Homo sapiens: one gene and its partner. The protein of the gene in region 1 purifies or fractionates together with the protein of each later gene. This does not show direct contact. Each region holds a gene or a part of one and is shown in the gene's direction. Other genes may lie near its edges.

What was found.
Region 2: the proteins of GPR65 (region 1) and CYGB purify together in Homo sapiens (affinity purification with mass spectrometry; one large-scale study listed by BioGRID and IntAct). This does not show direct contact.

Annotation. Positions count from the first base shown.
Region 1 is NC_000014.9:88,003,630-88,008,180, forward strand, and holds the start of GPR65 (G-protein coupled receptor 65), read left to right. Parts: upstream 1-1,505; 5' UTR 1,506-1,593; intron 1,594-4,551. UniProt on the Homo sapiens protein: Proton-sensing G-protein coupled receptor activated by extracellular pH, which is required to monitor pH changes and generate adaptive reactions. Activated by an optimal pH of 7.4.
Region 2 is NC_000017.11:76,527,710-76,531,524, reverse strand, and holds part of CYGB (cytoglobin), read left to right. Parts: coding exon 1-65; intron 66-382; coding exon 383-546; intron 547-1,503; coding exon of another isoform or gene 1,504-1,573; exon of another isoform or gene 1,574-2,907; intron 2,908-2,913; coding exon 2,914-2,947; 3' UTR 2,948-3,815. UniProt on the Homo sapiens protein: Probable multifunctional globin with a hexacoordinated heme iron required for the catalysis of various reactions depending on redox condition of the cell as well as oxygen availability.

The DNA of each region.
Region 1 (4,551 bases):
GTACCCCGAACTTAAAAAAAGATATATCATGTATAGAAACCACAGATAAGCAGATGTACGAAACCAAGCAAAAATGAGAACTTTGAATTACAGTCACAAGTAAACTGAAATCGTTACTTTTCATTTTTGTAAAACTTCAAGACATTTATTGTTAATTTTTTACTTTATACTTAATTTTTATTATTTCAGTAACAATATATTGATTTATAATTTACTATATGCTAAATTACTTTATAAACTATCCTGTGCTTTATAAATGTAAGGTATTAGTTTTATTATTCTCAAAGAAAGACCTACAACGGAAGTATTGAAAATCTTTACATTCCTGATATACCCTGATCAACTTCAATATGGAAAGCCTTGCTTATATACAGGCTAATCTTTTCTATCTCTGGGTAGGGAGAAAAAAACAACAAAAAAAAAACACCAGCAACAACCCTTAATGTCCTTTAACAAACACAGATTCAAAATGTCCTGATTACATCTTTAAAATTAAGTCAAATGTTTTCATCCCAAATAAATTCTGTTCTTTCAAATAATATTTTCCCTTCATTTCTAATAAAAGTTTATGAGGGCAAGATTCAAAAGTGATATTTCTGACTTTTTTATATATCAATAGTAAGAAAGTTATAGGAGCTAATTTCACTTCATATTAAACCACTTATAGATTTGGCATTAACTTTAACTTGCTAAAGTACAAGAGTTTTTATAATAACAATGTAAGTCTTAAATAAAATTTTCAAGTTTCATAAAATTATTTGTCTCAGCTAGTTAATTCAACTGGTTTTTAGCCATCTCTGTTTCCAAGAGGAGAGAATCAAAGGAGAAAATAGTTCTACAATCAAATACTATATATCTAATCCCATTAGTCTCTCAAAAAAAAAAAGAAAAGAAAGACGGTATGAGGTTGGCTACCTTAACCCCTGCCTTAAGCAGCACAATATCCATCATTAAACCCCTCAGCCTCAATTCTCCCTTTTCTGTTTTTGTCCCAGGAACTTTATCACCCTGAATCTACCTACAATATCCTCCCCTATCTCACACATCCAAATGGTTCATTCTATTTTATCTGTACCCCTCTTGAAGTACTTCTTCATTTTGCCATTGCATTACAATCATTATTAAACATGTCTTTCTCCTTTACTAGGTAAAAAAAGCTGCTTTTGGTTGATAGCCAGTTCGTATACATCTCCCCGCACACTGCTGGCATGATGAGTGAATGAATGAATGAATGAATGAATGAACAAAGAAATAAATAAAATATTTAACATATATTCCATTAAGTAAAGGGCATATAATATAATATCAGTACATACTTGTAATTAAGATGCAATGAGACAAGTGAGTTATAAAAATTACAGTACAGTAAACAATAAATAAAAACATCTTTAAAAGTATTTAAGAGACTTTTTTTGTTCAAACTTGGATAACGCACACCCTTCTCATTGAGATGCTGCTTCCTCATTGGTTTGTGCTGAAATATGAGTGCAATTTCCTGTCCCCTCAGCAGTGTTGGTTTCTCTTCTTGACTTGATGCAGGCACAGATTTATCAAGCTCCTCAGTCAACAAACACATCACCGGAAGAAATATGGGTAAGTATAAGATTAAAAAATAAAATAATATTTTAAAGTAGATAACATGCTTTGGCATAATTGTCAGTGATGTTCGCAACATTCTTCCTGGTTTAGGCTGTATAAATGTGGTAATGCAAAGCATGATAAGAGAGAAAGAAATGAGGAAGACACATGGTTTCCTCTACTTTGAGCAGTGGTAAAGGGCCAAACTTTAAATTTAGAACTAATTAGGCAAAACCATAGATATAGAAAAAGGGGGTTGTTCATACTTTATTTTCTTTTCAGGAAACAGTGCTTTGGCAAACTTCATTCAGTATTAGGAAGAAGCCTACCAGCCCCTGGCTTTAGAGCTATCTGGCACCAATCCCTCATCTGTACAATGGTCCAGTAAATACTTTTTATATCCATCAGAAAAAAATGTGATATTAGGAAAGAATATTTCCAGTATTAATAAATGTCAAGTAATAATTATTAGTTAATAAGTGACTACCACAGTGCCTGAAATATATAGTAGAGTCTTAATAAGTAACTATTAAACTGATAGATGAAAGCAAGCATTTTCTATAACACTGTAGGAAAATATTGTACTTTTGGTCATCGTCATCAATGATTTGTACTATTTTTAGATCTGTTCAAGAATAGATATACTTTAATATACTGTAGATTGTCTTTTTTGACATCTGGTAAAAATTAAAAAATTAAAAACTCACCAAAATTTCTCAGTGCTTGTTCTAAAAACAATTTTCTCAAAATTTGATTAAAGGAGGCAAAATAATATCTGAAAAGATATGTGAATACTGTAATAGGAATTATATACAGTATTCCACTAAAATCTCAGATCCACCCAAATTAAATGAACAACTATTATCTGCAGAGCCTAGTATTATACGTGAAGTGTTACCATATAAATTACACTCTGAGCACCTCCAGCTTTTCTGCTATGCTGTGGCTAGATGACTAAAGATGATTTCTTTTCAGAAAATGTAGGGGACAGCACAAAGATTGGTGCAGACTACCAATGTCATTAAAACAATATTACCAGCTAACGTACAGTGAATGCCTCCCATGTGCTAGGAACTTTGCTTCATATGTCGTTTCATTTAACCCTCACAACAATCTTAGAAACTGGGTACTAACTTACACATGTGAAAACTGGAACTTAGAGAGGTGAAGAAACACCAATGGGCCCAGAGTGCTGTTGAGAGGCATTCGAATTGTCTCCAGAGCCCACGCTCTTAACCACAAGCCTGTACTGCCTCTGCGTCACTACAAAGAAGAGGGCCTCTGCTTCATCAACCCATCCTGTCTTGTGGTTAAGTCAAGGCAGGAAATGCTTTTACAGCTAGAGAAATGTATTCCATTGAAAACTTTATAAACCTTTCTAAAAATCATTTTTTCATTTAATCTGTCATACCATTTTTAAAGAAAATGATGACTATCTATTGAGTAACACGGACAAAGGAGGAAGAGGCACATGCTGCCCATTACCCGACTTTCTCGGTCCTGGTCTTAAGGGGAGGATGTTTTCATGGTTCAGGTGTTCTTCCCAAGACACATGAGCCTGGTGTTGGACGTGTTGTGTGTGCATCAGAGTCCCATCCGCGGGGGCTGATTCAATCTTCCTGCATCGCAGACATTACCCTAGTGTCCTTTTCCTACTTCAGTTATATCCTTTAGAAGTTTCTTTAGTGGGGATTTTGGATGTAAATGTTCTGAGTGGTAGTTTACCTGAAAATGTCCTAATTCTTGCTCTGGTCCTTGAAATTTAGTTCTGTTGAGTATATAATTATAGGATGACATATATTTTCTTAGCAATTTGGAACTTTTAATCTTCTGCTGTCTGTTATCGCTGTTGAGAAGTCTTTTGTCCGTCTAAATTCCATCCTTCATAGGTAGTCCATCTTTCCTCTCTGGCTCTTTTTTCCTTAGTCTTTGGTGAACTGCAATTTTATTGCAATGTGTCTAAGTATAGGTTTCCATTTTTGTGTTTTTAATCCTATTTGGGATTTTCTAAGCTTCATAAATCTGCAGATTTCATGAGGATTGAAGATGCATGAGGATTCTTCATCCATCCTCAAGATTCCTTCATCAGTTCTAGAAAGCTCATCATCTTTGTGAATATTGCCTTTTCAACATTCTCTCTTTTCGATCTTTATGGAATTCCAATTATGTATATGCCACCCTTTTCACCTTTTCTCCATATCTCTTATATTTTCCCATGTCCTTAACATGCTGATAATTTTGTGTTATTTCTTTATCTCTATCTTGCAATATACAAATTTTCTCTTCAGCTGGATCTAATCAGTTGGTTACTCCCTGTGTTTATTTTTAAATTTAAATTATTATTATTTTTATTTTTAGAAAGTCTTTTTCAATCTTTCTAAAAATATGGCTTGTCATTTTTTAATCTCTTCCTCCTTACTCATGTGTTTAAATCCCTTCTTTTGTTTCTTTAAACATATTAAACATATTTTGTGTTTTTTATATATATATATATAAATTTTATCTCTAAAGTTTTGTGGATCTGGTTTACTTTGTTGTTTCTGCTCAATCTGACACGTAGTTGCTTATTATTCTCTCTGTGTGTATGTGTGTGTGTGTGTGTGTGTGTGTGTGTGAATAAGGTCATATTTGTTAGAACTCTATCTGTAGGATTCTTTGAGGCCTGAGTTAAAGAGGACTTGTTCAAGGGGGGATCTGTGTCAACTTCTTCCAGGAGCCTAGAATTTATTTTTTCATATATAGTTAACCTTTATTTTTGGTGAAGTTATTTTCATAATTAGGTAAATTATTTATTTATTGTTTTCTCTCAATTACATTTTATGTATGAGGATAGAAATAAGATCAGATTTCTTAAAAAGGCATATATGTTCCATCTGTGGGTAAAACAGATGTTTGTTTGTCAAGATGCTCTACATGCCATCTCACACAGCCTTTTGATTCCACTTTTTAATGTTTCCATTGCAATACAATACA
Region 2 (3,815 bases), on another chromosome or scaffold:
CTGTGCTCGCCCTTGTGGGGAAAGCCCACGCCCTCAAGCACAAGGTGGAACCGGTGTACTTCAAGGTATGCGCCCCCATCTGCTGCAGAGCCCCCACCGCCCACGCGTCATGGCCATCTGCAGCTCGCAGGCTCTGCGACGGCTCTCTGGAGCAACAGAGGTGATCCCCGGAGTGGCTGCGAGAGGGAGGGGCAGTGCCCGGCAGCAGGATGGAGGGGCTGGGTCCAGGGCAACCCTTGTCCTGAGAGCACGGGGTTCCCAAAGCTGCCAGACTGTTGCGTTAGGAATGATCCTCTCGGCCACACGTGGGGCGGAGGGGCCTGGGGGTTGCAGGACGCAGGGCGCCCGGGCGTTCACTCCCCCTTCCTCCCTTTGCCCCCAGATCCTCTCTGGGGTCATTCTGGAGGTGGTCGCCGAGGAATTTGCCAGTGACTTCCCACCTGAGACGCAGAGAGCCTGGGCCAAGCTGCGTGGCCTCATCTACAGCCACGTGACCGCTGCCTACAAGGAAGTGGGCTGGGTGCAGCAGGTCCCCAACGCCACCACGTGAGGAGGCGGGCGAGGGTGGGCTGGGCAGCCTCCCCGCCATGTCCTCTGCTGTCCCCGAGGTCTCCCATATCTCCTGAGGCCCTGGGGCTGATCACCTGGGCAGGCACACTTGAGGCAGGCCAACCCTGGGGTCTGACATGTAAGAACAGGCATAATAGGAAAGGCCTTCAAGATGGCTCCCCTGTGACTTCAGGCTGCTCAGAGCCATGAGCCCTGAGCAAAAATCCTCCCAAAGAGCCTTCCCCTTCCCTAGAGCCAGGGAGAGCTCAGAGCACCCAAAGCCACAGCTGCCCAGGCAGAGAGGCGCCAGAGGCTCCTGGCGGTAAGGTCCGATCATCAGGCTCGGAGGCAGCCCAGGTCAGCCCAGCCACTTCCTCCCTGGGTGCCAATCACAAGGGGCTGTTTTTTCATCTCATGCCGACCAGTGCTGCTAAATGCCCTCTGCCTCAATAGGGCTAGAGCCCGGAGGATCACGAGGACACATACACACACACACACACCCCAGCCCACGAGGAAGCTACATGGGTGTCGCTCACACGCACACGAGCAGGGGCATGTTTACTTCCAGGCTGACCTGGAGGCTGGGCTTCCAGTTCTGGGCCCAGGAGGTGGCTCAAGGAGGGTGGCCGCCCTCTGTGACTCCTGCTGACTCGGAGCGTGAGGGGAGGGCTAGCCCCCAGATGTGGCGGTTGGGAACACTCGGCCTCCCTGGGCCCCCAAGGGGAGGCTGACTCTGGGAGCTGAATGGAGAGGCGGAGGCAGGGCTGGAGTAGGAAGGAGGAGAGGAGCGGAGGCGGGAATGGGAAGCAGAGGTCAGCCAGCAGCCCGGGACACGCGTGGTAGAGAAACATTCCCGTGGTAGAGAAACATTCCCAGCAGTTTCCCATGGAAAAGGCGGCGTCTCCCGCCGGGCTCTGCACGGGCCCCCAAGACTGCCGGCCCTTCTGTTCACAGGCACAGCTCCTGGAGGAGGTCCCCTGAGGGCAGCTGGGGACGCCAGGCCTCCTGCCCTTCCTGCTGCTGACCACACTGGCCCCGGGCTGGCTCCTGCTCCCCTCCCCCCTCTCCCGTCAGCACCACCCCAAGAGAGTGGAGTCCTCGGGAACTGCTGGCTGGAGCCAAGCCAACTCCAGATGTGCACAGCTGGGCCCTGGCCTGCCTGAGACCTGGGAGTCAATGGGAAACAAGCAGATGTTGGCCCACCAGAGGAGGGCACTGGCAGGGCGTGGAGAGCAGTGGTTGCCCCCTCACCCCCCACCAGCTGTCACCCAGAGGGTCCAGGGAAAAGACAGGGGAAGAGGAGGGGAGGGGGCTTGCCTGCCCTCCCACCCCTCTCCCCACGCAGGCTCTGCTGCCAAAGATGAGTTTGTTTACAGCCAGGACACAAGACTTCCTGCTTCCAGAGAAAAGGGCTTTTTTACAAGGGCCAAGAGAGACTGGAAAGAGAGCTGGCTGGGCGCGAGCCCCAGTGAATCAGAAACACATGGCCCAAGTTCCCCAGCACGCTGCCCGTCCTGCCCTCCCCACCCTGCCCTAGGGACTAAGATCTCTCCAAACCCCAAACATTTTGAAACGGCCGAAGTCTCCTCCTCCGCCCACTTCTGCTCCTTGTGGACTGAATGGAGATGGGCTACCGTGGAAACTGGCACCCCATGGGGGTTACTCCCAGCTGTCAAGTGGTGGGGTGGTCCCCTCATCCCTTTACACCCTCTAGCCCACCCCTAGTGTCCCTGGCCTGAGCCTGCAGAGCCTCCCTGCTGCCAGGGTCCCCATGGGCTCGAGGGTAGGATGGAGTTACAGAGTAGAGTCCTAGAAGGCCCTCGCCCAACTTCTCTTATCAGGGAAGCAGGGGTGGGCCAGGCGCCACTGTTTATTGAGCCGTCTCTGCTCCAGGGTGTGCGCCTTTGCGTGGGTGGGGGGTGGGGGGGGGGCGCAATGACTGCAGGGGGCGCTGTGTGTACCGAGAATACGAGAATACAGATGGGTGGCCCGAGGAGGGACGAGACAGGCCGGACAGAATGCGCCACGTTTCAGAATTAATGGAAAAAGAGCTCACATTGGTATCGTGCTTTGCAGTTTGTGAAACACTTTTTTACCCAGTTTATGTCACAAGACAGACATTATTCACATTTTAGAGAAAAAGATCCGGAGCTCCCATGGGCCAGTAGACTTGCCTGAGATCACACAGCACGTTCGTAGCAGGACGGAGACTAGAACTTGGGTCTCACGGTTGCTTTCAACTGCACTGTGCCGGATCTCTTGGCAGGAAGTGAGCCTCGCCAGCCCCAGGTCCTCCCCCTTTCCCCCGAGGGTCCTTCCCTGCCTCTGGTAACGTTTGTCCTTCCCTTCCTATCTCGTCCACAGCCCACCGGCCACACTGCCCTCTTCGGGGCCGTAGGACCCCTAACTCCACCCCCCTCCCTGGCAGCACCTCGAGCAGAAGGCCGAGTTCTGAAGACCCTCCTTGACGCTCCATTTCTGGGTGCCAAGGAAGCTGGAGGAATCCCTGACTCAACTTCCCCGAAGGAGGCCTCTGTGGCGGCCAGGGTCCCCCCCTGGAGCTGCTGGGAGGCGGCGCTGGCTGCCTGGATGCTGACCCCAGCGCGGCGGGCAGAGCGGGGCCCACTCTTCTTAGCTTTTCTACTCACTGTTAGAGAGAGACCTAGCTGAGCGGCTGGCAGGAAGCGGGACAGGTCTAGGAGTCCCTTAGGGAATAAACCAGCCCCGTTTCTATCAGCCCGGCCAGCATGCAGGTCTCCACATCACCATCTAGAGTATCACGCACACATCTACCATATATACAGATATATTCTATATACGAGCTATATATAAATATATATATACATATATATATACACACATACATATCTAGAATGTGTATCCGCGGCGCCCAGAAGCCTCGGTTTGGCCCACCTGTGAGTGGGGCAGGGAGGGGTTCCGGTTGTGCAGAGAACAGAGTGTTCTGGCAAAGAGGAAATCCCACAGCAGCGCAGAGGACCTGGGCCTGGAGGGGCAGGGCTGGGGCAACCCGGCTTGGCGGCAAAGCCCAGCCCCTTCTCAGACCAGCTCCCCACATTCCTGAATTCCACTTCCAGGCAGAAAGGAGTGGGCTCCCCCTACTCCCTCAGAGGAACTGACTCACCGGCTGTCCTAGAATGGGCAGGGGCAGAGCGAAGTTCTGGGTGGGATGACCGCACTGGGGGAGGGGCCTCAGTCCAGAAACCTCGACCGCTAGCTCCACCTGCCTTGGCCACCAGGGCAGCCCC